7 linked regions of the Homo sapiens genome follow. The protein of the gene in region 1 purifies or fractionates together with the protein of each later gene. This does not show direct contact. Each region holds a gene or a part of one and is shown in the gene's direction. Other genes may lie near its edges. The genes, in order: KAT6A, LSM14B, MRPL19, RPS27L, GNL3L, ZNF148 and TTC4.

Evidence for each region.
Region 2: the proteins of KAT6A (region 1) and LSM14B purify together in Homo sapiens (affinity purification with mass spectrometry, with the first as the bait; one large-scale study listed by BioGRID). This does not show direct contact.
Region 3: the proteins of KAT6A (region 1) and MRPL19 purify together in Homo sapiens (affinity purification with mass spectrometry, with the first as the bait; one large-scale study listed by BioGRID). This does not show direct contact.
Region 4: the proteins of KAT6A (region 1) and RPS27L purify together in Homo sapiens (affinity purification with mass spectrometry, with the first as the bait; one large-scale study listed by BioGRID). This does not show direct contact.
Region 5: the proteins of KAT6A (region 1) and GNL3L purify together in Homo sapiens (affinity purification with mass spectrometry, with the first as the bait; one large-scale study listed by BioGRID). This does not show direct contact.
Region 6: the proteins of KAT6A (region 1) and ZNF148 purify together in Homo sapiens (affinity purification with mass spectrometry, with the first as the bait; one large-scale study listed by BioGRID). This does not show direct contact.
Region 7: the proteins of KAT6A (region 1) and TTC4 purify together in Homo sapiens (affinity purification with mass spectrometry, with the first as the bait; one study listed by BioGRID). This does not show direct contact.

Annotation. Positions count from the first base shown.
Region 1 is NC_000008.11:41,939,780-41,943,987, reverse strand, and holds part of KAT6A (histone acetyltransferase KAT6A), read left to right. Parts: intron 1-8; coding exon 9-240; intron 241-987; coding exon 988-1,195; coding exon of another isoform or gene 1,196-1,207; exon of another isoform or gene 1,208-1,939; intron 1,940-2,543; coding exon 2,544-3,146; intron 3,147-4,208. UniProt on the Homo sapiens protein: Histone acetyltransferase that acetylates lysine residues in histone H3 and histone H4 (in vitro). Component of the MOZ/MORF complex which has a histone H3 acetyltransferase activity. May act as a transcriptional coactivator for RUNX1 and RUNX2.
Region 2 is NC_000020.11:62,128,690-62,132,897, forward strand, and holds part of LSM14B (protein LSM14 homolog B), read left to right. Parts: intron 1-235; coding exon of another isoform or gene 236-343; intron 344-1,095; coding exon 1,096-1,263; intron 1,264-1,529; coding exon 1,530-1,607; intron 1,608-1,840; coding exon 1,841-2,002; intron 2,003-2,666; coding exon 2,667-2,817; intron 2,818-3,666; exon of another isoform or gene 3,667-4,208. UniProt on the Homo sapiens protein: mRNA-binding protein essential for female fertility, oocyte meiotic maturation and the assembly of MARDO (mitochondria-associated ribonucleoprotein domain), a membraneless compartment that stores maternal mRNAs in oocytes.
Region 3 is NC_000002.12:75,652,840-75,657,047, forward strand, and holds part of MRPL19 (large ribosomal subunit protein bL19m), read left to right. Parts: intron 1-1,896; coding exon 1,897-2,078; intron 2,079-2,224; coding exon 2,225-2,446; 3' UTR 2,447-4,208.
Region 4 is NC_000015.10:63,154,275-63,159,101, reverse strand, and holds the start of RPS27L (ribosomal protein eS27-like), read left to right. Parts: upstream 1-1,624; 5' UTR 1,625-1,696; coding exon 1,697-1,702; intron 1,703-2,580; coding exon 2,581-2,689; intron 2,690-3,370; coding exon 3,371-3,481; intron 3,482-4,827.
Region 5 is NC_000023.11:54,564,504-54,568,497, forward strand, and holds the end of GNL3L (guanine nucleotide-binding protein-like 3-like protein), read left to right. Parts: 3' UTR 1-2,786; downstream 2,787-3,994.
Region 6 is NC_000003.12:125,368,535-125,372,742, reverse strand, and holds part of ZNF148 (zinc finger protein 148), read left to right. Parts: intron 1-4,208. UniProt on the Homo sapiens protein: Involved in transcriptional regulation. Represses the transcription of a number of genes including gastrin, stromelysin and enolase. Binds to the G-rich box in the enhancer region of these genes.
Region 7 is NC_000001.11:54,722,361-54,725,860, forward strand, and holds part of TTC4 (tetratricopeptide repeat protein 4), read left to right. Parts: intron 1-314; coding exon 315-439; intron 440-3,500.

The DNA of each region.
Region 1 (4,208 bases):
TTCTTTAGGTTATTTGTTATCAAAGCGTGAAGGCCAAGCAGGGTCTCCAGAGAAACCGTTATCTGATCTGGGTCGTCTTTCCTACATGGCATATTGGAAAAGTGTAATATTGGAGTGCCTTTATCACCAAAATGACAAGCAGATCAGCATTAAGAAGTTAAGCAAGTTGACTGGAATCTGCCCTCAAGACATCACTTCCACACTCCACCACCTACGAATGCTGGACTTCCGTAGTGACCAGTGAGTATCACATCTTTTTGTATACCTTTGAAAGATAATTAGGTTGAAGTTTTTTGGATCAGCCAGTCAGATTATTGATGAAAGGGCATTAACTAATATAAATGATATACTTGGTGATAATGAGATATCATTTTCCTTTCTAGGATATTTTATTTGATTGACTATATATATGGTCTATATATAGTCTATATATATGCTTTTTAAACTGAATTGTTTTTCTGATACCCCTAATTTTTGGACCTAAGCTACTGAATCTTTCATCTTCTAGTATTGGGAGCTCTTTCACAATACAAGAAGTAACCACTCTAGAAACAGTCATTAAATAAAATGCCCATGTTAAATTTTCATATAAATGGCACAAAGTAAATATAGATTGAAAGGAAGAACAGACAGTTCACCCTTCACTAAAGTGGTCAGAAAAAGGTCACAAAGAAAGGAGGCATTTGAGCCAAATAAATGGAGAATAGGAAAGAGAGTGCAGAAGAGCAGCAGAACTTCTGGAGCGGGACGTGTGAGACAGCAGGCAGTGAAAACAGCCCGCGGCCACGGTAGAGAGCGAAGCATTTGTCCTGCTTCACACTCCTGGCCGTCTCATGTGGTGGCACATTTCTGCATTCCATCGTCCCAGGCAGGCTATCTTTGCAGCACCTATCATCTTACATGCTTCACCAGGGGTCTCATCTCCACATTCATTTTTATGTACACCTTGTACATTGTTGATTGCTATAAACTTTTCTCTGGTTCCAGATTTGTGATTATCCGCCGGGAAAAACTTATCCAGGATCACATGGCAAAGCTTCAGCTGAATTTGCGACCTGTAGATGTAGATCCAGAATGTTTGCGCTGGACTCCAGTCATAGTGTCCAACTCTGTGGTCTCAGAGGAGGAAGAAGAGGAGGCTGAGGAAGGAGAAAACGAAGAGCCACAGTGCCAGGAAAGAGAATTAGAGATCAGTGTAAGGGCATGAATAGTCTCTATTTTTGATGACAGAAGATATATTTTTGATTTCATGAGTATTTATAATAATGTATTATGATCATCTTTCACAGAAAAGTAAATTCACATTAGAATGTCAAGAGTTTTATTTCAGTGGTAGAGATTTCAAGAAGACTGGACCTGGTTTACTTAAGTATTTTTAAGCCTTGGACAATTAGGAGGAGACCATCAAATTTCTTATAATGTGTTACTTGTGAGAAAAATATTTGTTACCAGGGTGCCAAGAAGCAGCTCAGTTTTAAGCTGGATAGTAGTTGAGAAATCTGAATTGAATCCAAATCTGACAGTTTTTAAAAATGAAATGGAGGTTGGGTGTGGTGTTTCATGCCTGTAATCTCAGCGCTTTAGGAGGCCCAGGCGGGAGGATTGCTTGAGATTAGGAGTTCAGGACAACCAGGGAAATATAGTGAGACCCCATCTCTACAAAAAAAACCCAACAACAAAATGAAATGGAGATACATTTTCCTTAAATAGAATATTAAGTAACTATTGTAAACTTGTGTATGTTTTCTGATGGGGCACCAAAACATCCTGTGGACACACAGATCTCTTTAGCCGTTAAAGGGTTGCTGGTGAACTGTAGTGCATGTGTCATTGTCAGTATTTTTCTTCATGTGATGCATACTTTTATAGCTCTTTTTTTTAAGCAGTGCTTCATCCTTTCAACACCGGTATCCTCCTTTAATAAACATAAAAAATCCCATGCCTCTCTTTAGTGCAGTTTAATTTTTCAAAATGAAATTATTCAGAATAAAAGTAAATTTAAAAACTACATAAACTTTCTTTCATATTTCTCAAATGCCTCCTTCCTCTTGCCCATGTCTCAAGATCCTGTCTCCTCCACCCTGTTTACAAATTTTTATTTCTGAGAAATTTTATTAAACAATCTCATTTAACATTTAAAAGAACAATAGTATTCACTTTGCTTATTGAGGGTGGTACTGCAGAAAGATTCAGAACATAGGCTCTGGAGTCAGACTGCCAGGCTTTCTATCCCAGCATCTTCTCTTGCTCTTGCGTGACCTGGGGCAGATTACTTAAATTTTTTTCTACCCCACATGCCTCATTTGTAAAGTGGAGTTGTAGTGGTAATACTTCATATGATTGTTGGGGAGATTAAATAAATAATGCATATACAGAATTTAAAGCAGTGCTGAAACAGGAAATATCCATGTTAAATAACTGATCATTTTCTTTTTAAAGCTCAGTTTCCTTTTCTTCTCTCAATACTTAAAAGGTCAGAATAGGTAAATGTAAGCAAACAAGACTGAAAAATTAACCAGCATTGTTTTATTTTCTAAAATCAGGTGGGAAAGTCTGTGTCTCATGAGAACAAAGAACAAGATTCTTATTCAGTAGAAAGTGAAAAGAAACCAGAAGTTATGGCTCCAGTCAGTTCTACACGTTTGAGCAAACAAGTCCTTCCTCATGATAGTCTTCCTGCAAATAGCCAGCCATCTCGGAGGGGCCGCTGGGGGAGGAAGAACAGAAAAACCCAGGAACGTTTTGGTGATAAAGATTCTAAACTGCTCTTGGAAGAGACGTCTTCAGCTCCTCAGGAACAATATGGAGAATGTGGGGAGAAATCAGAAGCCACCCAGGAACAATACACTGAAAGTGAAGAACAGCTGGTGGCTTCTGAGGAGCAGCCAAGCCAGGACGGGAAACCTGACCTTCCCAAGAGAAGACTCAGTGAGGGGGTTGAGCCCTGGCGAGGACAGCTCAAGAAAAGCCCTGAGGCTCTGAAGTGCAGATTAACAGAAGGAAGTGAGAGGCTGCCCCGTCGCTACAGTGAGGGTGACAGGGCTGTCCTCAGGGGCTTCAGTGAGAGCAGCGAGGAGGAGGAGGAGCCGGAAAGCCCTCGGTCAAGCTCGCCACCAATTCTCACAAAGCCCACGCTGAAGCGAAAGGTAACGCATTTCTTTCCAGGTCTTCTCTTCCTCCAATTCCAGTTTATCTTACACCTTCTCGTTTTAGCTTACAGTTCTGAAAGAGTATAAGTTAGAAATTCCTAGTGCATTGCTTTATAAACCTTAAGCCTCTGTATATTGTAGCTCAAGATCTTCCCAGTGAACATTTGAGATGTGTGTGTGTGTTTGACTTCTTTGATTCATGGGAATTCACTTAGAAATCATAAGCTTATTTAAGGGCTTCACCTCCTGGGATGCAAACAAACTTTTTTTTAGCTTACTGGTTTGATGTTCAAATCATGACTTTTAGGGGCTTAAAGCCCTAAAATATCTTTAAAAGATATTTTTAAAGTATGTACAGATTAGAAGTGTTTATATTAGAAAAGGAGGCCAAAATATTACATAATTAATTGGAAAGTGAACATAGTGCTGCCCTATATTTTGGGGTACTCAGAGTACAGTAGCTCATCTTGGGTGCTATTGTTTTCTCTCTACTCTCCCCACTTCTCACACATCCCTCCAGTGGTTTAACGTGGTCTCTCTTGCTTTAAAAATATTTTCTAAACTATATTCCATCATAATGATAGCCAATTAGTTATTAAATAATGTACAATGATGATAATGAATTCTGTTAAGCCGTTTACCAGAAACATCCCAGGCTATGGAGTGGATTTTAAGCATTGCCAGGAGGCAGCCAGACTGAAGCGAGGCTGCTCCCTGGAAGAGCCACTCAGCCAGCTTCCAGCCAAAGCAGCACAATCGTTCCTTTCCTTACAGGGTCTTAAAAAGCAAGACAGGATCTTTTGTTTTGTTTTGTTTTGTTTTAAGAATAATATCTTCAGAGCAGTTTTACATTTACAGAATTAATGCAAAGAAAGTACAGAGAGTTCTCGCATACCCCAGCCAGTTTCCTCTATTATTAATCCCTTGCGTTGGTGTGGTACATCTATCACAGTTACTGAACCAGTGTAGATACATCAGTAACTAGAGTTCATACTTTATTCAGATTTCCATAGTTTTCCCTAACGTCCTTTTTCTGTTCCAGGATCCCACCCAGCATAT
Region 2 (4,208 bases), on another chromosome or scaffold:
GTGAGACAATCAGTGAGAAAGTGGCCCGGGTGCATTCCCGCCAGAGGACACTTTCCAGACCTCTATGCAGAGTCGTTCCAACCTGCCCTTTGAGAGCTTCTCTTGATCTGGTTACAAGGAATTTTTCTACAGTCAATTTTTTTTTTCATTTCTATTCCGTAAAAGCAGTAAGATGAGATGCCCAGTCTTCATGTGTATTGGGCTGTTCGTCTAATAATAATTACCCTGTGGTTAGGGTGCCTTTTCTGTTTCAGATCTCTGTTCACTTACACCCAGTCCCACATTGTCCTGTTTAGAGTCCCTACAGGTCCTGGAACCTTGGAAAGGGAGGAGATGGAGAGAGGTGGGTGGTGCTTCCCATTTTCCTCCTGATTCAGAGGGCCTGGTTTCTGAGGGTTCATCCCCTGTGCGTGGGCCTCGGACTGCAGTTTCATAGGCATAGCCCCTTGCCAAAGGCTACCTAGGAGCCCTTTGTGTCTTCATGATGAGCCTTTGCCCTTGAGAGAAGTGTAGGCTGCTACGTCTCGGAAGTCAGCTCCTGCTTCATCATTTTTAGTTTTATTGTGCCTTAAGTGGAAATGACAGTGTTGTAGAATTTAACTTCAGAATTTGTTCACTGCATTTTCTAGAAAATCCCAGGCTGGGCTGGTTCTTCTCCAGTGTGGACCAGAATGAAACAAATTCTCAGATCCTGAATTCATCAGGATCTTGGGGCTGCTGAGCTCCTTTGGGATTGGAGCTTGTGTGGTTTTAAGAAAGCTGTTTCCACACTTCTGGGGAGGTGCCTGTTTGTAGGCACGGTGTTTTTCCTGTCCTTGAGGTTCCCTAACTTGGGAAGCTCAGGGCTTTGGGAGTGGGGAGTCCAAAGATGAACTGGCCTTGGTGCTGCCCAGTGACTCTTGGCCTTCTTTTGCTGCCTGGGCTAGCCTCAGAGGGAATGGCCCAGTCTGGGGGTGCTTTGCCTGGATTTGATAGAACATCTAGGCAGTTGCCCTCCTTTCCTTCCTGACATGCCAGCAGAAGAGAAATGCCTGGAGATATAAGGCTTGCTTCTTTTCTCTCTGTTTTTAAACCCTCCTCCCCTCCTCAATTCAGGAGCTGGTTTTCCATCCATCCCAGTCGGCAAGAGCCCCATGGTGGAGCAGGCTGTGCAGACTGGTTCTGCTGACAACCTGAATGCTAAAAAGCTGTTACCTGGCAAGGGCACCACAGGGACGCAGCTCAACGGTCGTCAGGCCCAGCCGAGCAGCAAGACGGCCAGCGGTACTTGAACACATCATTTCCTGGAGTTTGCTTGATGTTCTAAAAGTGGCACACTACTTCCTGGGCTATTTTTTTTTTTTTAATTAAAAAAATACTACTCCCCCATCCTAAGCCCCATGTGCTTTTGCAGGGCAGGCCTGTGCAGCAGCCTCCTGCGGTGCCGCCCTGGCCGCGTGCCCCATGGTGGTGGGGCCTGCTTCCACAGCTGGGTTCTGGCTTCCGGCTGCTATAGGAGCTTTGCCTTACTCTTCCCTTTTGCGCCGTAGATGTAGTCCAGCCGGCAGCTGTGCAAGCTCAAGGGCAGGTGAATGACGAGAACAGAAGACCTCAGAGGAGGCGATCAGGTAACACCTGTTGCCACTTGATTTCTGGGGACCACGAGTGATCAGGCTGAGCTCTGCTTGCCCTCCTGCCTGCTTCTCTGGTTGACGGTTTCAGGGGTGCTGGTGTGAAGTCGCTGCTTGTGTGCTCTGTTCCTTCTGTGGCCTTGGGGGTGTGCCTGGAAATTCCTTGTGAGGTGTTTGAGATCACTGGGTTGGTGACCTACTTCAGCCAGGGCTGTCCTTTGTCCTCACAGGAAACAGGCGAACAAGGAATCGCTCCAGAGGGCAAAACCGTCCAACTAACGTTAAGGAAAACACAATCAAATTTGAGGGTGACTTTGATTTCGAGAGTGCAAATGCCCAGTTCAACCGAGAGGAGCTTGACAAAGAATTTAAGAAGAAACTGAATTTTAAAGGTTTGGCTCATTATATGAAAATTATTCTCTGCACAGGAGTACCCCTAGAGAGTGTTAGGAGGAGATGCCTGGCCGGGTGTGGTGGTTCACGCCTGTAATCTCAGCACTTTGGGAGGCTGAGGTGGGTGGATCACCTGAGGTCAGGAGTTCAACACCAGCCTGGCCAACACAATGAAACCCCATCTGTACTAAAAATCCAAAAATTAGCCAGGCGTGGTGGTGGGCGCCTGTAATCCCAGCTACTCGGGAGACTGAGACAGGAGAATCGTTTGAACCCAGGAGGTGGAGGTTGCAGTGGGAGTGAGCCAAGATTGCGCCACTGCACTCCAGCCGGGCGATAGAGCAAGACTCTGTCTCAAGGAAAAGGAAGAGATGCCTAGAGGAACCGGGGATGCCAGGCGGATGGTGACCGGCAGTGAGGAATTAATGAAGTGAGGTGCTGGGAGGTGTGAAAATGGGTGGGATAAGGTGCAGACTGCACAGCCCAGACGGCAGAACGAGACCTGTACTTAGAAGGTAGAAGAAGAGATTTCTGCTTTGCACAAGGCATAGTTGATGTCTTAGCTTGAGGGTGGCTTCCGAGTGAGCCCGGAGGGACCACCCTGCTAAAAGGCTGTGCGCTCTGCCCCTCCTCCATCTCCACGTGTTCTGCTTCTTTTTGTAGATGACAAGGCTGAGAAGGGGGAAGAGAAGGACCTGGCTGTGGTGACCCAGAGTGCCGAAGCGCCCGCTGAGGAAGACCTTCTGGGGCCCAACTGCTACTATGACAAATCCAAGTCGTTCTTCGACAACATCTCTTCTGAACTCAAGACCAGGTGAGAGGCTGAATGAATGAGGGGAGGACAGTCCTCCAATCTAGAAAGGACAGGGCTGAGGGCTCTCAACCTGAGGGCAGAGCTGGACTCTGAGGCTCAGGGTAGCTGTTCTAGGGTCCTGCTTGCGTTTCTGCATGATGGGTGCCGGAGTCCCAGCAGGTTGCGTGTGGGAAGCCTCTTGGGGATCCCGACCCGAGGAGTTGGCTGAGGTCGAGCCTGTTTCCTCTTGGCTTTGCTGCCCTGTCCCCACAAAGGCTGGGCTGCACCGCCCCCCCCGGCAGACCCGTGTCCACATTCAGCATACCTCACGGTGCTCTGCTTGCTGGTCCCGCTGGCCTGGCAGCCTGAGGTCCTTGCTTAGCAGCCTGAGGTATGGCTAGAACGTGCTCACACTGGCTTTCCTTCACTTCATTGTTTGAGGCCAGGGACCATGTGGTGTGTTTTATTTTTCACACCTAACAGCTGGTCAGAAGTCCCGCGAAGCACCCTAGGGAGTGGGTGGCATCTACAGTGTGGGCCTGGCTTGGAAACTTGGGCCCATTTGTCCTGCAGATTGAGCGCCAGACATGCCGCGGGGCGTTGAGGGGGCCTCAGAAGGCAGGCTGGAGAGCGCCACCTCTTCAGGTTCATGTTCTGCCAGGGGAAAAATAGAACAGCATGTCGTGAAGGCCAGGCAGTGAGGGCGATGGGATGGGGCTGTAACTCGATGGGAAGTGGATGATCAGTTCTCACAGGCAGAGCAGGCTGCGCAGATGAGTGCGGGAAGTGCTTCCAGACAGGCCGAGTCTGGGGGATGGGTTCCTGTAGGGTTTTGTAGGGCATGGCAGTGACTTTGGCTTTTGTTCCAAGTGCCGCGGGAAGCCATCAGAGGGTTTTGTGCTGAAGCGTGGTGCGGTCTGATGTTTTACGGCGTCCTTGGTGAGAGTGGTTGGACGGTGGGCAAGTGTGGCTGCTGACTGGCCAGTTAGGGGCCAGTGCTGCAGCACAGGTGGCTTGGAACCAGGCAGTGGTGGTGACAGAGGGAAGGAGTAGAGTCTAAATGTGTCTTGAAGGTGGCGCTAACAGAATTGGCCAACATGACAAGAGAAGAGTCCAGAATGACTCCTAAGTCTTTTGGCCTGGGCGGCTGATGGGTGGAGTTGCTGTTTCTTTGAACACGGAAGTCTGTGGGAGCAGCAGGTTTCCGGCTGAAGAGGAGCTCAGGGTGGGTGTGCTGCTGGAGCTGTTGTCTGCGTCGGTAGGAGTGCTGGGTGGGAGTGCTGGGTGCACAGTTGGATGTGGGAGATAGTCTCCCACCAGCAGCTTGTTTGGGTGGCATGAGTGTCCATGCTGTATCCCTGTCTTTCAAACTCCCAAAGCAGAAGCATCACATTCCAGGGAACTTGTTCCAT
Region 3 (4,208 bases), on another chromosome or scaffold:
GACTTCTTTCTCTTGAAGGCTTCTTATGTTATTGGAACAACAGTCATTAGAAGTAGACTTTGCAAACCATGGCAACATCAAAGAGGGGAATAAATTACTATAAAGCAGTATGGGGATATTTGTTTTAGGAGCAAATAACCCATGAGTAAAACTTTAAGACAAACCTTTAATGTCTTCATGAATTACTTGCTCCTAAAATGAATACCCACATTTTACTTTATGTTATGACACAAAACAAAATTATCACTGTCTTATATGACTTGGGAGGAATTTTAAAAAGGCAAAATTGTGTTTATATACTATGCCTAATAGAGGAACAAGGAGTAAAACTCTAGCAAGATTATTAATTAAAATGGCAGGAACAATTACGTTTATCAAGTTGTGTGCTTCATGAAGTTCCAACAACAAAGTATTCTTATTTTCAAAGAAATTGAAAATGTGAAAGCAGTTGCTGTCTTGCTTATTCTGTAATGACAGTGGGCTGTGCGTGCAGGAATTCAGCAGGACTTAATTGATTTGTGCCTTCAATCTGGTCAAATACTTGGAGAGGCCTTGTAATAGAAGTAAATGAGCATAGGAGTGAGTCATTTGATTTTCTTTAAGCATTAAGATAGTAATAGTTTCTACTCTACATGGTTCTAGCCAATCAACTGTGAGATACTGTATTTGAAGTACTGGACACAGAATACTCAAAAAGGATTAGCTCCCTCTTGCCATTCTCTGTAGTATGTCTGACTGTTGTAACCTGCCTCAACCTTCCCCATCACTGCTTCCTGCATTAGTGTTTCCTTCTTGTTCGGTGGCTTTGTATACCATCTGTATAATGATAACTTCCAAATTTATAACTCCAGGACTGACCCTTTTTAAGTTCCAGATTTGCAACTATCTGCAACTATCTGATCAACACTCTATTTGGATGTCTTACCAGCATAAGTTGAAAGCAGAACTCTTTATTTCCCCTTGCAAGGTGTTCCATTCACAGTCTTTTCTATTTCCATAAATGGTACCACTCTGCCTACCCACTTACTTTCACACATGCAGTCAATCAAGTTTTCTTGGCACAGTCTCCAAAAAATATATCACAATTTTGCCTGTTCTTCCCTCTACATTGCTATCACCCTCATCCATGTCACCATCATCTGCTTGCATTTGTGCAGTCTCTCTGGTTTACATTTCTGGTGGCTTATTCTGTTCGTGCTGTTGTAACAAAATGCTACAGGCTGGGTAATTTAGAAAGAACAGAAATTTATTTCTCACAGTTCGGGAGGCTGGGAAATCTAAGTTCAAGGTGCTGGCAGGTTTTGTATTTGGTGAGGCCTCCTTCCCTGCATCCAAGATGGTGCCTTGTTGCTGTGTGCTCTGGAAGGGCCAAGCACTGTGCCCTCACATGGTGAAAGGTGGAAGGGCAAAAGGCAAAACTAGTTCTCTCCATCCCTTTAATCCACTAATCCTTAATCAAAGGAGCTTCTAACCAAAGTTGGAACTTAATATTTTACTTCTTTTGTACCATTAGTCTTATTACTCTTAACATGGAAGATTGATTTTTCTTCAAGTAATTGGGAGATAAAAAACGTGACATAGGGAAGAATTCAGACTTTCTCTGAAGTTACTACTATGAGAATTGAAGAGATATGTGACTCAACATATTTCTAGAAGCCATTTTTTTCTTTTTTAGACTATCATTCCAATTCAGACTTTCTAACTTTATATTTAAATGGATTTTAGCTTATTTCTATTTCTTTCAGTAATCTTTATCTTAAAAATTTCAAATTAACGGCACATTTTCTACATGCAAAACTTTGTGCTAATTCCTTTATGAAATGCTTTTACTGCAGTATGAAACATGTATAGGAACGTGGACTTAGATTGTAAGAATATGTTTTCTGTTCTATTTAGGTGTCGAGATTTGCTTTGAACTTTATAATCCTCGGGTCCAGGAGATTCAGGTGGTCAAATTAGAGAAACGGCTGGATGATAGCTTGCTATACTTACGAGATGCCCTTCCTGAATATAGCACTTTTGATGTGAATATGAAGCCAGTAGTACAAGAGCCTAACCAAAAAGTTCCTGTTAATGAGGTATGGGTTATACATTTGAAACTAGAAGTTCAAGTATAAAATAAGAAAGAAAGAATCATCTTAATGAAAACTTCAGAAGAATTTTTGCTCATGCCTATCAGCCTAATTATTGCTTTTTTTTTTTTTTTTTTTTTAATCTTCCTTAGCTGAAAGTAAAAATGAAGCCTAAGCCCTGGTCTAAACGCTGGGAACGTCCAAATTTTAATATTAAAGGAATCAGATTTGATCTTTGTTTAACTGAACAGCAAATGAAAGAAGCTCAGAAGTGGAATCAGCCATGGCTTGAATTTGATATGATGAGGGAATATGATACTTCAAAAATTGAAGCTGCAATATGGAAGGAAATTGAAGCGTCGAAAAGGTCTTGATTCTGAGAATGAATTTGGTTAGTTGCAGAAGATACATTGGCTCTAAGAGGATATATTTTGAGACCAATTTAATTTCATTTATAAGAACATAGTAATTAAGTGAACTAAGCATTCATTGTTTTATTAATACTTTTTTTCTAAAATAAAACTTGTACACCAGTTTATTACTCTAAAAAGAGAATTACACATGCCAAATGGACCAATGTCCATTTGCTTATTGGAGGCAAAGCTACAATAGAAGTCAGAGCATCACCAGAATGGTCTTTAATGAGCATGGAACCTGAGCAAAGGGAATAGGTGGGATGAATTTTTTTTTTAATTGTGAAACAATTCATAAGCACAATATGATTTACAGAATAATAAACATTCATGTACCCACTATCAGGTTAAGAAATAGAACATTTATTAATATGTAGGAATGTTAAGAAATAAAACATTTAATAAGATCTCAGAAGACTCCAGTAAATCTGCAATTGTATCTCTCTCCTTTTTAAATGTAAATATCATCTTGACTTGTTAATTATTCCCTTGCATTTCTTTTAGTTTACTGCCAACACATATATTCTTCAACAATATATTTAATTTTGAAAAACCTGAAAAAAAAAACCTGTTAGCAAGTATAAAGGGGCAGTATTACTATTATTGCATGAAGGCTTCAAGGGAAACGTTACAGTCTTTGGGTCATAGTCTGGCTTCAGCTTCCTCTGAGAGTTTACAGAGGCCAATTTTGAGCAAATTCATGGCTAAGGTTATGAGTGAGTTCTGCTAAACAGAAGGCTCACCACAAGGTATCTGGCAGGATTATACTGGGTAGCTGGATGTTGCAGAAATGTGGTTAGAGGAAGTAAACTGTTTTTTGATGCTCACAGCATGATGAATCAAACTCTGTATCTTAGGATTAGGTTAAAACAATACCTTTGGTATGATATGAGTGTTGTTGCTGATCCATGCAGCATGGATTGGAAAGCTGGGGTATAAGCACACATGCTAAAGAAAAACATGTAATTTGGTCCATACTCACCTGGATATACTGTTCCTCAGGTTAAAAAATACAGTACTATCCTAAATCTTGAAGGCAACTCTCAGCCTATCCATTGAGTTACCTTCAGATCTGCCCTCTGGTTCCTAGCTGTCTTGGGACTAACTTCTTTCCTGCGCTCAGCTGTTTTCTGGATTCCATGTTTTCCATTTTATTGAGTACTAACTTGTTTTGCTGCAGCACATCCTTTGGTAGCTTCTAGAGGAAGTTTGTGTGGAGGTAAAATTTTTGAGACCTTGCATGTCTCATGTTTGATTGATACTTTATACGTTTAGGTAGGAGGTAATTTTCCTTCAGGACTTTAAAAATATTGTTGCTCCATTTTCTTTGTTTCTATTGTTGTATTGAGAAATCCAATGCCATTTTGATTTCCCCATCATAAATTTCATGATGATGTGTCTTGGTGTGGGTCTATATTTATCCATTGTATTGGGTTTTAGGTGAACCCTTCCAGATAGTAACTCATTTCTGTCAGTTCTGGGAAACACTTAGCATTGGTTGATGATTTATTCTCTGCTGCTTTGTTCTCCCAACTATTATTTGGATGTTGGATATCCAGCACTGGGTATCTATTTTCTTACCTCCCTCCCTTGACCCCAGTCTCTGTTTTTTAGCTCTTTAGCTCAATCTTCCAACTCTTTGCTATTGTATTTTAAAATCTTAAGACCCCTTCTTGATTTGTAGAAGTTCCTTTTCTTACAACCAAAAAGCCTTTATCTATGG
Region 4 (4,827 bases), on another chromosome or scaffold:
GCACAAGATGATCCCAATTAGGTTAAGTCAAAACCCAAAATAAACCTATATCCAAGAGAGTAAAAAATATTGGGAAGGATATAGGTCAAAAGTTAAAAATGTTTATTTACAGATGGTAAATTTTCTTCTATTTTTCTGCATTTCCCAAAATGTATATTATACATGTATCCTTTTTGCAAAGACAAATAAGGTGATTAAGAACATCAAGTCAGGGCGGGACGCGGTGGCTCACGCCTGTAATCCCAACACTTTGGGAGGCCAAGGCGGGCAGATCACTTGAGGTCAGGAGTTCGAGACCAGCTTGGCCAACATAGTGAACCCCCCCCCCACCATCCCCCGTCTCTACTAAAAACACAAAAAGTAGCCGGACATGGTGATGGACACCTGTAATCTCAGGTACTTGGGAGGATTGAGGCAGGAGAATCGCGTGAACCCAGGAGGCGGAGGTTGCAGTGAGCCAAGATCGCGCCACTGTACTCCAGCCTGGGTGACAGAGCAAGACTCTGCCAAAAAAAAAAAAAAAAAAAAAAAAAATCCAGTTAGACCAATTTTCTGGTAAAGTGTCTTTCTGGTTTCTTGCCTTTTGGTCGCCCATGACACCCATTTTTCAAGCATAGAGTTTCCTCCTCAAAAATAGAGCATGCTGTCACGCGCCGGTAGTCCCAACTACTTGGGAGGCTGAGGTGGAAGGACTTCTTGAGCCTAGGAATTGGAGACAAGCCTGGGCAATATAGCAGGACCCTGTCTCCAAGGAAAAAAAAAAAAAAAAAAAGAATAATGGCGTGTTCCTGTGGTCCCAGCTACTCGGGAGGCTGAGGCGGGAGAATCGCTTGAGCCCAGGAGGTCGAGGCTGCAGTGAGCTGTGATGGCACCATTGCATTCCAGCCTGGGCAAAAAAGCGAGACCTTGTCTCAAATAATAATAATGATAAAGACTCATGTTCGGTCATCGGTGACATTCGCCTTTCTCAGGCCCCCTAGTTGTCCACTCTGCAAAGGACGAGTAATCCTCGGAAGGGGTGGGGCCTCTTAGTGAATGAGGCACAGCAGCGAATCCGTGCTGTTTTAAAAACTTTTTTTCAGAACAAAGCAAACCTAAGGCACAGCCATACCCCGCAGAAAACTTCGAAATCTGCGCCTTGAAAAGGGAAGCCAAAAGGATACGAGCCTCTTTCATAATCTCTCTGGCACGTATTAATGGTTAATAATACTGTATTTTTTAATACACAAAAGAAGAGAATAGTGGCATTGCCCCGTGTGCCCACCCCCAGAGCTAACCGAGAGCGGCCGGGCCAGGGGGCCGGGGGCTGAGCGGCCCGCCGGGTTCCGGGGTGGCGCCGGCCCCGGTGGCCGCGGGCGCTCCCTCGCCATGGCCTAAGCCCGAGGCCGCTCCCCAGCCAGATTCTGGCCTCAGGCACTGCAGAGCCCGCGGCGCTCGCCAACAAGCCCGTTAGACCCACGGGACTTGGCACCCTGGAACGCTCACCATCCCCGGGTCTTCCCTGCGCCCTGGACCCGAGTACCCTGCTGCGGCGTCCCCCTACCACCGAGAGGAGGGCCTAGAGCAGACAAGCCCGCCCCGCCGCTCCTCCCAGCAGCTTCTATCCCGGAAGTTGATGCCGAGCGCAGATCGCTTGCAGCTTGCTAGCTGTGTGGGCTGGGAGGTCTGGTAGGGCTGAGCTTGCAAGAGGATCAACATGCCTGTGAGTTGTTTACATCGGGCTCCGGGTTTGTTTTGGGCTTCTTTACCGAGAGTCATATGGGACGGATGAGTCCGGCTGCCTCTCGGGCCTGTAGTGTCCGAGAGTGGCGAGGCGGCTCAGGTTGCGCAGCGTCTTCGCGCGTGGCGGGCATGTAGTGACTTGCCCGGTCACCGCGGCGCGGCTGGCCCTGCAGGGGCGTGGGCTGCAATTCAGAGGCGGTGGCTGGGAGGGGAACAGTTCTCTGTGTAGCTTATGAGCGGTCTTGGTCTTTGAGGATGCCCCTGAGGTTGTGATCTTTGGGTCTTTTGGCTTTCCCAGTGATTGGTGTTTCTCGCCCCCTCTGCCTTCTTTCGGAAGCGATTTCCTACTTGTTTTCCTTTTTTAAAAACTGTCCTCGTTGTTGCCTTATATATTAATTCCGTCAAGGACGGTCGCTCAGCAAGAATTCCTGTCAGATCAGCTGTTGAGCCACAGGAGCAAAAATCACCCAGGCGCTGACGTTGTCTGGTCTACTTCAGCAGTTTCTACTCTAAGCGAGTCCACAGTCGGGGTCACTTTCTTTGCTTAGCACCTCGACTTCGCGCAGTTTTCATCGAAGACAGTTCATTACGCAGTTGAGTAAAGAAGGACAAAGTTTGCCTTACCATATGTTTCCTGATCGTGCGAAAGCCCTTTTCTAGGGACTTGGAGAACACAAGTATTATGAAAAGTACTGATGAAAGTTATTAACAGGTTTCGAAAAATAACTTTACTATCTGACGTGTTGCTTCTGCCGAGGATGACCGTTATTCCTGTTTTTGCATGTATATTTCACGTATGGTTAAATGTGCCAGCGTTGTGGTTTAAAACTAATAGTAATAATATGCTTCTTTGTTCAGTTGGCTAGAGATTTACTACATCCGTCCTTGGAAGAGGAAAAGAAAAAACATAAAAAGAAACGCCTAGTACAAAGTCCAAATTCTTACTTTATGGATGTAAAATGTCCAGGTAAAATTTGAAATCTTAATTCCTTTACTAAAGAAAATTTCTGTAGGGATTGCTAGTGTGGTGTGTATAGTTAAGATACATTAGAACCCTCTGTTGAGTAGAAGTGGGATTACAGAATTGGAAATGTCAGGGACATTTTCATAATAAATGTACTGAAACCATTGTAGAAACATTTCGGGGTAAGTGAAAACAGGCATTCAAAGGAGATATGCCATTTGACTTAGCAAGTCTTTAAGCTCTTCAGACGATGAGTTTTCTGTTTCATGATACAAAGAAAAGTCTGTTGATTCTTCAGTCTAAAGCTGTGCTGCCCAATACAATGGCCATTAGCTGAATGTGGCTACTGAGCACTTGTGGATAATCAAAATGTGGATACTCAAAATAGAGATGTTCTTTAATTGTAAAATACTCACTGGATTTTGACGATGTAGCACAGAAAAAAAATACATTGATTACATGTTGAAATGATATTTTGGAAATATTAAGTTTAATGAAATATATTATTGATTTTACCTGTTTTTAAAAAATTTTGTGTCGCTGCTAGAAAAGTTTATGTTACACATGTGGCTTGCTGTTTCATAGCACTGAAGTTACTGATTTTTTTACATATTACCAGAAATGTCGAACAGGTGCTGTTTTCCTCTGCTTTTCATTTTTAACATTGCCTTTTTTTTTTTTTAGGTTGCTACAAGATCACCACGGTTTTCAGCCATGCTCAGACAGTGGTTCTTTGTGTAGGTTGTTCAACAGTGTTGTGCCAGCCTACAGGAGGAAAGGCCAGACTCACAGAAGGTATATCATTTGGCATTCTCCAACCCAGTGATGAGATTGATGATTATAAATGTCTCTATCTTCACTGAAAAGTTTAAAGAAATCTTAATGATTACCAAAATAACTTATCTTTCATTGTGTGCTTTCAGTAAAGAATGGCCTGTTCAAATGGATATATTTATACTCTTGACCTTGCAGTGAACTCCATTGACTTATTTTTCTTAGTTTAGAACACATTTATTCACTTAGTTTGCTTAACTTGGAATAAATTAAGTCAGAATAGAAGCAAAAGAATAACTACATGTTATAGGACATGCAGATTTATTTATTTATTTATTTATTATTTTTTTTTTTTATTAGGAGTCTCGCTCTGTCACCCAGGCTGGAGTGCAGTGGCGCCATCTCAGCTCACTGCAACTTCTGCCTCCCCGGTTCAAGTGATTCTCTTGCCTCTGCCTCCCAAGTAGCTGGGACCACAGGCGCGTGCCACCATGCCTGGCTAATTTTTTGTATTTTTAGTAGAGGTGGGGTTTCACTGTGTTAGCCAGGATGGTCTTGATCTCCTGACCTCATGGTCTGCCCGCCTCGGCCTCCCAAAGTGCTGGGATTACAGGCATGAGCCACCTCGCCGGCCAGGACATACAGATTTTTAAAACCATATAGAATTTTAAAATTTCTTTTACAAAATTTTGTTCCATATATATTTAGTACATATAATAGTTTTTTTTTTATCATTGCCAGCTAAGCAACAGATAGCTAATATATAAGTTAAAATGCCAGAGATTTTACTTTTATGAGCAACTGCAATGATTAATATAAAAACCTAATTTTAATTCCTCTTTCACTTTAGTGCAATAAGAAAAAAAAATTATATATATAGTTTCCATAGTAATACTTGTAAATTTGTGATTCCATAATGATGTTATAAATTTGCTTGTGATATTTTGGGGAGCTGTAAGTTCCATGCTCTCACTGGAAGAGTTCAAGTGGATTGGCAGCAAATCTGAGATCTATTTGGTGTGACCTGGTGAGATCTAAATATGGAGTCAGCACATGATTTTTTTAAGAGTAATATTGCTAAGTAATATTGCTAAGTATACTTGGGAGATTTTTGAAACAAAGTATGTCATGTCATGATTTTGGAATTTAGTGCCCATATGCTGACAGATGGTTTAATGGGTCTATCTGTTCTAGAGTTTTCCTAATAGGTCTGAAAATACCTCTAATCAAAATTATTTACTTGAGAAAAGTATTCAGAATAGTTCCTAAAAATTAAGAGTATATCTTCTGACAGCTTGCTTGAAACAGTCTTCACTGTTGAATTCAGGCTCATGGTCTTAAGTAGACTTCATTATAGCATTTGAGAA
Region 5 (3,994 bases), on another chromosome or scaffold:
TTCAAGCGGTTCTCCTGCCTCAGCCTCCCGAGTAGCTGGGATTATGGGCGCCCGCCACCACGCCCAGCTAATTTTTGTATTTTTAGTAGAGATGGGGTTTCACTGTTTTGGCCAGGCTGGTCTCGAACTCCTGACCTCATGATCCTCCTGCCTCAGCCTCCCAAAGTGCTGGGATTACAAGAGTGAGCCACTGCGCCTGGCCTTTTTCTTTGTTCTTATATTTTTGTCTTTTTTTTTTTTTTTTTTTTGAAACAGAGTCTCACTCTTTCACTGAGGCTGGAGTGCAGTGGCGTGATCTTGGCTCACTGCAACCTCCACCTCCTGGGTTCAAGCGATTCTCCTGCCTTAGCCTCCCGAGTAACAGGGACTACAGGTGCCCACCACCATGCTGGGCTAATTTTTGTATTTTTAGTAGAGGCGGGGGTTTCTCCACACTGGCCAGGCTGGTCTTGAACTTCTGACCTCAAAAGATCCACCCACCTCGGCCTCCCAAAGTGCTGGGATTATAGGCATGAACCACCGTGTCCGGCCATATATTTTCGTCTTTTGAAGACTGTTATATACATGAAATTATATGGTATGTAGCATTTTGAGAGCGACTTCTTTTGCTATGAGTAATACATTTGAGATTCATCCATATTTCTCAGTATATTAATAGTTCTTATTTCTGAGTCACTCCATTGTGTGGATTTACTACTGTTTGTTCCCCAGTTGAAGGATGTTTAGGATCTTTGCAGTTTTGGACAATTACAAGTAAAGCTGCTATAAACATTTGTATGCAACATTTTGTGTTTTCATTTATCTATAGTAAATACCTAGAGTTGGATTGCTGGGATATATGGTAAGCATATGTTTGACATTTTAAGAAACTTCTAAACTGTTTTTCAAAGTGGCTCTACCATTTCACATTCCCATCAGTATGAAAGTTTCATTTCCACATCCTCTCTAGTACTTGGGGGTGTCAGTTTAGTTTTTTAATTTTTAAATTTTTTAATTTTTTTAATACATTTAAATAGAGATGGGGTCTCACTGTGTTGACCAGGATGGTCTTGAACTGCTGGCCTCAAGTAATCCTCCCATCTCGGTCTCCCAAAGTGCTAGGATTACAGGTGTGAGCCACCATGCCCAGCCAGGTTTTTTGACATTAAGTATGTGGTGGTATCTCATCGTTTTTATTTGCATCCTCTAATGATTTGAGCATATTTTATATGCTTATTTGCTATCTACATATCTTCTTTGGCAAGGTGTTCACATCTCTTGCATATTTTGGATTGTTTTATTATTTTTGAATTTTGAGGATTATATGCTGGATACAGGGGTGTTTTTTTTTTTTTTTTTTTTTGAAACAGAGTCCTCACCCAGGTTGGAGTGTAGTGGTGCAATCTCGGCTCACTGCAACCTCTGCCTCCTGGGTTCAAGTAATTCTCATGCCTCAGCCTCCTGAGTAGCTGGAATTACAGGCGCAGGCCACCATGCTTGGCTAACTTTTATATTTTTACCAGAGACAAGGTTTCACCATGTTGGCAAGGCTGGTCTTGAACTCTGGACCTCAAGTGATACACCCGTCTTAGCCTCCCAAAGTTCTGGGATTACAGGCATGAGCCATTGTGCCTGGCCAGTATCTTGTCTTCTCATTCTGTAAACGGTGTCTTTTTTTCATTATGGGAAAGCTTTATTGACACATTTGTTTTTATTTTTAAAAATTATGGTAAAATACACAGAACATAAACGTTACCATCTGATATGGTTTGGCTGTGTCCACACCTAAATCTCGAATTGTAGTTCCCATAATCCCCACACATATGTACCACATTTTCTTTATCCAGTCTTTCGTTGATAGACATTTAGGTCGATTCCATGTCTTTGGTATTGTGAATAGTGCTGCAGTGAACATATGTGTGCATGTGTCTTTATGGCAGAATGATTTATATTATGCATAACCAAAACTGTACTTATTAAACAATAACCTCCCAACCCCTTCTGCCCACAACCTCTGGCGACTGCCATGCTACTTTCTGTCTCTGAATTTGAATACCCTGATAGTCATATAATATTTATCTTTTTGTGACTGGCTTATTTCACTTTGCATAATGTATTCAAGCTTAATCTGTGTTGTAGCCTGCGTCAGAATTTCTTTTCTTTTTAATGCTGAGTATTATTCTATTGTGTGTATATACCACATTTTATTTATCCATTCATCCACTGATGGACATGTGCATTGTTCCCACCTTTTGGCTATTGTGAAAAATGCTGTTATGAATATGGGTATGGAGATCTCTCCCCTTATTTTGAGACAGGATCTCACTGTCACCCAGGCTGGGGTGCAGTGGTGTGCTCATAGGTCACTGTAGCTTCGACCTCCTGGGCTCAAGCGAACCTCCCACCTCCGCCTCTTGAGTAGCTGGGACCACAGGCATGTGCCACCATGGCTGTTAAATTTATTAATTTGTTTTTCTATGGATCATGCTTTTTGTGTTACATCAGAGGAGTCTTTGCTTAACATGAGATGACAAAGGTTTTCTCCCATGTTTCCTCCTAAAAGTTTTATAGTTTTAGGTTTTACATTTAGGTCTATGATCCATTTTGAGTCAATTTTTGTATATGGTACAAGGTATGAATCTATGCTTTTTAAAAAAATATGGTTACCCAATTTTTCTAGCAGTATGTGCTAAAACTTTGCTAAAGTCACTTAGTTCTAGTAGCTTTTTTTGCAGATTTAACCAGACTTTCTACATAGACAATCATATCTTCTGTGAATAAACATGGTTTTATTTCTTCATGTCTAATATATATGTCTGCATTTTTTTTTTTGTCTTATTGTAGTCGCTGGGACTTCCAGTACTACACTGAGTAAGAGTGGTGGCCAGGTGCGGTGGCTCACGCCTGTAATCCCAGCGCTTTGGGAGGCTGAGGTGGGCTGATCACCTGAGGTCGGGAGTTTGAGACCAGTCTGACCAACATGGAGAAACCCCGTCTCTACTAAAAATACAAAATTAGCTGGGTGTGGCAGCGCATGCCTGTAGTCCCAGCTACTTGGGAGGCTGAGGCAGGAGAATCTCTTGAACCCAGGAGGCAGAGGTTGCAGTGAGCCGAGATCACACCATTGCACTCTAGCCTGGGCAACAAGAGCGAAACTCCATCTCAAAAAAAAAAAAAAAGAATGGTGAGCACAGGCATCCCTGTCTTGTTTCTGACTTTGGGGGAGAGTATTCTTTCTGCCTTTAACCATTAAGTATGTTAGATTTTTGTATTGCCCTTTACTAGTATGAGGTGCTAAGGGTTTGTTTTAGGAATGGATGTTAGATTTTCTTAAATGTTTTTATGCATCTATTGAAATGATTACATGGTTTTTCTTTTGTGGTTTGTTTTTAATGTAGTTTTAATAAATTATATTGATTGATTTTCTTATGATAAACCAATCCTGCATTCCTGTGATAAACCCCACTTTGTCATGATGTATTATTCTTTTTTTTTTTTTTTTGTGAGACGGAGTCTCACTCTGTCACCCAGGCTGGAGTGCAGTGGCATGATCTTGCCTCACTGCAACCTCTGCCTCCCGGGTTCAAGTGATTCTCCTGCCTCAGCCTCCTGAGTAGCTGGGACTACAGGTGCGTGCCACCACGCCCGGCTAGTTTTTGTATTTTTAGTAGAGATGGGGTTTCACCATATTGGCCAGGCTGGTCTCGAACTCCTGACCTTGTGATCCGCCCGCCTCAGGCTCCCAAAATGCTGGGATTACAGGCATGAGCCATTGCACCCAGCCTATTCTTTTAATAAATTGTTGGGAAGTTATATTAGTTTCTATTGCTGCTGTAAAAAATTAGCACAGACTTTGTGGCTTAAAACAACACAAATCTATCATCTTACACTTCTAGAGGTGAGAGGTCCCAAATGAGTTTCACTGGGCCAAAATTGGTGTTGTCAGGGTTACACTCTCTCCAGAGACTCTAGGGGAGAATCCATTTCCTTGCCTTTTTCAGCTTCTAGAGGCTGC
Region 6 (4,208 bases), on another chromosome or scaffold:
CACCCGCCTTGGCCTCCAAAGTGCTGGGATTACAGGCGTGAGCCACTGTGCTCGGCCTCTACTCTTTTATTATAAAATTGTTCTGAGGGAACTTACAATGAAAAACAGCAGCCCCTGTCTCACCTGCCTATTGCAGTTCCACTTTACTGAGGCTGCTACTTTTAAGCATTAATTTTGTATTTCTTACCATGCTTTTTTCCATGTCTCCAAGTAATGGGCATATAATATTATTTCTTGATTTATCAAAATGACATTATCGGAGTCAGAAGATGTTTATGAATGTGTCATTGACATTATCCCCTTTCTCCTCCTTTCTGACCTTTGATATTTATTTTAGTTATTTTATTCAGTGTGTTTATATTTTTAAATAATATGCTTAAACCTTGATTTTAGAATCCAACAATCTTAGGCTGTATCTCTTGATTTCCCCATTGTATTTTAGGGATTTAGCCTAGGTATGGCTTTCCTGAAGTAGAAAGAACATTGACAATTAGACTAAAAATGCTGGATGAGATGATAAAGAGAAGTTTGGATGGACCTATCAGAAAGACCATGTTGTAGGAACCATCTTTGCAGTGTAAGATTTGCTTGTTAGAGATGAAGAGGAGTTGCTTGACAATGATAGTTGTTCATCTTGGAATTAGTTACCAGATTGCAGTATTTTTTTTTTTTTTTTTTTGAGACGGAGTCTCGCTCTGTCACCCAGGCTAGAGTGCAGTGGTGTGATCTCGGCTCACTGCAAGCTCTGCCTCCCAGGTTCACGCCATTCTCCTGCCTCAGCCTCCCGAGTAGCTGGGACTACAGGCTCCCACCACCACGCCCGGCTAATTTTCTGTATTTTTAGTAGAGACGGGGTTTCACCGTGTTAGCCAGGATGATCTCGATCTCCTGACCTCGTGATCTACCCGCCTCCGTCTCCCAAAATGCTGGGATTACAGTCATGAGTCTCCGCGCCCGGCCTGATTGCAGTATTCTTTGACAGTCTTCTGGAGAGTTTTAGTGTGGGAAATCTGGAAATGCATTAAAATGACCCTTGAATGTTTTTTCTAGGGTTCTGTGGCAATTCTTTTTTTTTTTTTTTTTTGGGACGGAGTCTAGCTTTGTCGCTCAGGCTGAAGTGCAGTGGCACGATCTCGGCTCACTGCAACCTCTGCCTCCTGGGTTCAAGCAATTCTCCTGCCTCAGCCTCCTGAGTAGCTGAGATTACAGGTGCCCGCTACCACACCTGGCTAATTTTTTTGTGTTTTTAGTAGAGACAGGGTTTCACTGTAGATGGTCTCGATCTCCTGACCTCATGATCTGTCCGCTTCGGCTTCCCAAAATGCTGGGATTACAGGCGTGAGCCACTTCGCCCTGCCCCCCCCCCCCCCTTTTTTTTTTTTTTTTGAAACAGGGTCTCACTTTGTCACCCAGGCTGAAGTGCAGTGCGCATGTTCCCAGCTCACTGCAGCCTCCACCTCCTGGGCTCAAGCAATCCTCTCACCTCAGCCCCACAAGTAGCCGGGAATACAGGCATGAGCCACCACTCCCAGCTAACTTTTTTTGTATTTTTTATAGAGACGGGGTTTCGTCATGTTGCCCAGGCTGGTCTTGCACTCTTGGGCTCAAGTGGTCTGCTTGCCTCAGCCTCCCAAAGTGCTAGGATTACAGGCGTGAGCCACCGTGCCCGGCCACAATTCTTATGTTTTTATTTTTAGGAGGTAATGGATTGGCATATACATGTGTTTTTTGGGGGGATGTAGTAGGGAGAGATGGGAAATGTGGTAAGAGGAGGATGAGGATGAGGAACAGGGTTTGATGGAGGTGGTGATACATTTTGAGGAGGCTGAAGAAAAGGTAAAGAATTTTGAGGGGGATTTGGATATAGTTAATGTGAAGGAGGTTTACCTTATGGTGATGAGACTAAAATTTTTGTCATTTTTAAGGAAATTAGCATGTTTAAGTCACTAATATGTTGGGAATGTGGTAGGAAAAAACTATACTGGGCCCAATCTCCTCTGTTAGGTTAGAGTCATAAAATATTAATGTTTTTGAAATTTGTGTATGAGGTGCAAATCACTATGGTGGATGTTGGGAGATTAGAAAGATAATTACTCCACTTCTTTTTGGGAGTCTAAGTAATGGCAACTCTTGAGAGTCTTCCTTACTTTCAGTAGTAACAGTATTCACATGTAGTTTATGTATTGCTAAATTTTGTATTTGTGACAATTATTCTCTTTGTTTTGCAAATGGTACATTGTAACCTGTTCTAGAGCAGAGACTTCCTGTAGTCTCTAGGGAAACTAACAGCAGGTTGATTCTTAAGTGCTTAATAAATACCTGTTGAATGACTGATAGAAAGTAGTGTTCACTGTTAGTGATAATAGTGGGATTGTATGAAATTGCTGAGTACTTTGGGGGTATTGTAGGCAAAACTGTGTGTGTGTGTGTTTGACAGCGTGAAGGACAAAAGGGATATCTGGAGAGGACCTTTAGATTTAAGGGAAGAAGACAGACTGGATTAGAATGGAATTGCAGTGGTTCTGTAACAACTTGGAAGAGGTGGGACCAAGGGGTCTCTTCTAAATTTGAAGCTAGTTTAATCTGGAGTAAAATCTGGTCTGTAGCAGGGTGCTGGTTTAATTTAGATTTTTTTTTTTTACCTCAGGCATAAATGACTGTTTTAGGACTGTCTGATTTAATTCTTTTTTAGGATAGTAAAAATAACAGATAAGCTTCTTCTCTCAAGGAATTTGTAGTATTTACAATTTTTTTTTTTTTGAGACGGGGTCTTGCTCTGTTGCCCAGGCTGGGGAGCAGTGGTGCGATCTCAGCTCACTGCTGGGTTCAAACTCCGCCTCCTGGGTTCAAACAATTCTCCTGCCTCAGCCTCCCAAGTAGCTGGGATTACAGGAGCGTGCCACCATGCTCAGCTAATTTTTGTATTTTTAGTAGAGGTGGGGTTTCACCATTCTGGCCAGGCTGGTCTTGAACTCCTGACCTCAGGTGATCCTCCCACCTTGGCATCCCAAAGTAGTATTTACATTCTTTTGAGAGAGAAAGACAGTTGTGAAATAATTCAGTAATGGTATAAGATTTCAGAAAGTTGATTTTTAAAAACAAATATCAAAATTATATCTCCAGATAAGAACTTTTATATTTCGGTGGTCATTTTCAGTAGCAGTGTTCAGAATGTTTTTAGAACACCTTTTCTGAATTAACTTCTGAGTACAATTCTATAGAATTTACCTATTTATTGAGTATCTAGTGTGTGCTGTTGGGGGAAGGGGTCTATAAAGGTGAGCGAAACATGGTCCCTGTTTGCTAGGAGTTCATAATCCCTTCAAGAGGCACACTTTTTTTTTTTTTTTTTTTTTTTGAGGTTGCAGTATTCTTTGTCTTCTGGAGAGTTTTAGTGTGGGAAATCTGGAAATGTATTAAAATGACCCTAGAATGTTCTTTCTAGGCTTCTATGGCTTTTTTTTTTTTTTTTTTTTTTTTTGAGGCAGGATCTCACTCTGTCACTCAGGCTGGAGTCCGGTGGTGTGATCTTGGCTCACTGCAACCTCCGCCTCCTGAGTTCAACTGATTCTCGTGCCTCAGCCTACCAAGTAGCTGGGACTAGAGGCACACACCAGCACACCCAGCTAATTTTTGTATTTTAAGTAGAGACACGGTTTCACCATGTTGGCCAGGCTGGTCTCGAACTCCTGGCCTCAGGTGATCTGCCTGCCTTAGCCTCTCAAAGTGCTGGGATTACAGGTGTGAGCCACTGCGCCGAGCCCAAGAGGCACACTTTTGTTTGTTTGTTTGTTTTTTGAGATGGAGCCTCTCTCTGTCACCCAGGCTGGAGTGCAGTGGCGCCATCTTGGCTCACTGCAACCTCTGCCTCCCAGGTTCAAGCGATTCTCCTGCCTCAGTCTCAGAGTGGCTGGGACTACAGGCGTGCACCACCACTTCTGGCAATTTTTTGTATTTTTTAGTAGAGATGGGGTTTCGCCGTGTTGGCCAGGCTGGTGTCGAACTCCTGGCCTCAAGTGATCCACTCACCTTGGCCTCCCAAAGTGCTGTGATTTCAGGCATGAGTCATCACACCCGGCCAAGAGGCACACTTTTAAATAATACATGGTATAATCTTATTCTGAATGGTCTTATTGATGACAGATCTTTTTACTTTGAAATTTTGATTTTTAGAAATGCTGAAGGTTAGTCAATATCAAATAGAGTGA
Region 7 (3,500 bases), on another chromosome or scaffold:
TGGTAAATGACACAGCCAGATTTCTAGCCTTGATCTATCTGGTTTGCCACTAAGTTATAGCTTTTCCTACTTTAAGAGCCCTTAATACCAGGGAGACTTACAGGAGTTTTGAACTAAATGGACCTTAGGGATTTTTCTGATTTAGGACACAAAAAGTATTCTCCCTTGTCTGGGGACTGCAGTATAAGGGGCATTATCCTCCATTTTGCCTTCAGGGTACTGGCTGGTAGTTGGTGGGGGATGGGAGATCTTGCCCAAAGCAGGTTCTTTCCATGCATGTTTTTCTTGAATCCTAAGGGTTCTGGGTTCTGCAGGTGCCTTATGCCATCTGGAACTGAAACACTTTGCCGAGGCCGTGAACTGGTGTGATGAGGGACTGCAAATAGATGCCAAAGAGAAGAAGCTTCTGGAAATGAGGGCTAAAGCAGACAAGCTGAAGGTTGGTGACTGTCAGCAACCAATTAGCATTTGCTAATTAGCAGTAATTAGCATTCCCAAGATTGTGTCTCTCAAGTCATTGTAAACTTTTTAAAAACAAAACCCAAAACTAGTCCCTACTCCTGGAACTCTGTGGAGCACACAGACAAGTAAACAGTTATAGTGTGATATAGAGGTAAGCAAGGATAGATGGTGTGTATAGTGGTAGTACAGTCATGTGCCACATAACAGTGTTTCATTCAATGATGGAACTCCGTATATATTACAGTGGTCCCATAAGATTATGATGCCATATTTTAACTGTGCTTTTTCTGTGTTTAGATGTGTTTAGCTACACAGATACTTACCATTGTGTTACAGTTGCCTACAGGATTCAGTGTAGTTATGTGCTTTACAGGTTTGTAGCTTGGGTGCAATAGGCTGTACCATATAATCTAGGTATGTAGCAGGCTATACCATCTCAGTTTGTGTAAGTACATTCCATGATGCTTGTACAACAATGATTGTGCATTTTTCAGAATGTATCCCCATCAATCTGAATGGAGACACGTCTTGTCCAGGGCAAAATTAGATACCATTACTATATACAGTCACATAACAATGTCACGTGTTCAGGGCCAGCTAAAGACTCCCAGTGTATATTATATACTCCCATTCCGTAGTATAAGCCATGAAGAGAGACCTAAACCAGGAATTAAGAGACCTTAAGACTAGTTCTGGCTTTCTATTAACAGGCATGTAAGACAGTATTACACAGTGGCTAAGAGCTTAGACTCTGGAGCCACTGCCTGAATTTGAAGACTCCCTTCATGACAGTTATGTGACTTGGACAACTTGCTGATCTCTTTGTGCTTTAGCTACCTCACTAGTAGAAGGAGAATTAAAATATTTCCTACCTTATAGGGCTATTATATAGTTTAGATGGTTTAACGTAAGGAATGTTTTTAAATAACACCTGGAGCACACACACAGTAGTGCTATTTAAATGTTGGATATTATTTTGGGTAGTGATGGTATTCTGTTATTATTACTGTTTTTAATCATCATTTTAGCTGTTATGTGCCAGAAATGTCATATATCATCAGCAATGACCAGAGGTCATTCTGGTCATATGAAATGGTAGAAAAGGTAGATCTCTATGGACCCACATGGCTCAATAACAGAATTCTGAGCCTAGGTAATTGGGTATGGCCAGAATTTCTGAAAGTGGTATATACAGGAATGAATGTCTAGAGGGCTACTGGGGACAGTCACAATTAAAGGGAGATTTCAAGGCCCAGAAGCCTGATATTAGGTCTAGGTGACATTACTTGCTGAATAGCTGAAGTATTCCCCTGTGTCTGAGTACAAGCTGATTCTGGGTTCCTATGTGCTTGGCATATAGCCAACAGACTTGTGGCTATGTTAATATCAGACAGAGTAGACTTCAAGGCAGCAAGTGTTACCAGAGATGAAGTGAAGCTTTTTTTCTTTTTTTTTTTTCATGAGACAGAGTCTTGCTCTGTTGCCCAGGCTGGAGTGCAGTGGCATGATCATGGCTTCCTGCAGCCTTGACCTCCTGGGATCAACTGATCCTCCTGCCTCAATCTCCTGAGTAGCTGGAACTACAGGCGTGCACCACCATGCCAGGCTAATTTTTTTTTTTAATTTGTAAATTTGTAGAGTTGGGGTTTCACTATGTTGCCCAGGCTGGTCTCAAACTCCTGGGCTTTAATCCTCCTGCCTTAGCCTTCCAAAGTGCTAGAATTACAGGCATGAGCCACTGTGCCCAGCCACTGAAGCATTTTTTTAAATGATAAAAGGACCAGCTTATAAGAATATTTAACAATTCTAAATGTGTAGGCACCTACTAACAGCTTCAAAATGCATGATGCAAAACTTGACAACTCAAAGAAGGAAGAGACAAATCCACAAATAGGTGGAAATATCAACTATCTCAGTAATTAATAAAACCAGTATTTAAAAAATAGAGAGGGGTAGTGTCAATCACAGTGGTGGACTAAAGACCTTTACAATTTTTCTCCTCCATAAAATCAATGAGGAAACTGGCAAAAATGATCAGAATTCACTTTTCTAGGACTCTGGAAATGAACCAGAGGTTTGCAGCAATCTGGAGCATGTTTATTCAAGAAAAATGTTGGAACCTCAGTAAGAACAGCAAGCTTTGTGACATTTTAACTTGCTCTATTCTCATCTCCCTCCTCTCCAGTTCCACAGTAGCCTTGAAAGCCAGTAGCCCACAGTCATGGTGAAAATGAGCAGCCTGCAGCCACCAGAGGAGGCAGAACAGGGTTGGAGCTCTTTCAAAGCCTTTTCCCAGAGAACTGTGATGATTTGACCATCTGGTAGATCCCTGGAAGACCCCGCTCACAGGGCTATTTTTATATGACCTGACTTGGAGCTTACCCAGTATAAAAAGCTTTTTTACATAGGGCCAGAAAATAGGGGGAATGAAAAGGTGGGAGAGAATTTGTCAAAAAACAATTAGAGGCAATTGTTAAAGATTGTAGAAGCTGAAGCAGTGGATAACACTGGAGCAAACAATAGGTGCATCATAAAGCTTAAAAGGAAAAACTGGGGAATGAAATTCTGTGGGGGCTCCGAAAAGCTCCAGTATTCCTGAAGATCTAGATGGTCACACATGTGCCCAGGGCTATACATGTGCTCAGGAAAGACCTGAGAAGACCCTAAGCTCTCAGAGTCTCTGCAAGAAGGAAGTGAAGGCTAAGGTAGAATTGTAAACTGCTTGGGTGAATGCTAAAAATGTGCTTCAACATGTACACAAAGCCTCTTGACAAAGATTGGAAGACTTACTGTCTGGTCATTAGCTAGAGGAAGCCTAGATGTGGGACTTACTAGACAAAGACTTTAAACCAGCTAATTTAAATATCTTCTCAGAATGAAAGGAAATAGTGTCTAAAGAACTAAAAAAAGTATGAGAATGATGTCTTTCCAAATAGAGAATATCAACAAAGAGAAGTTACTAAAAAGAACTTAACAGAAGTTCTGTAGTTGAAAAGTACAATAACTGAAATGAAAAATTCACTAGAGGGGCTCAACAG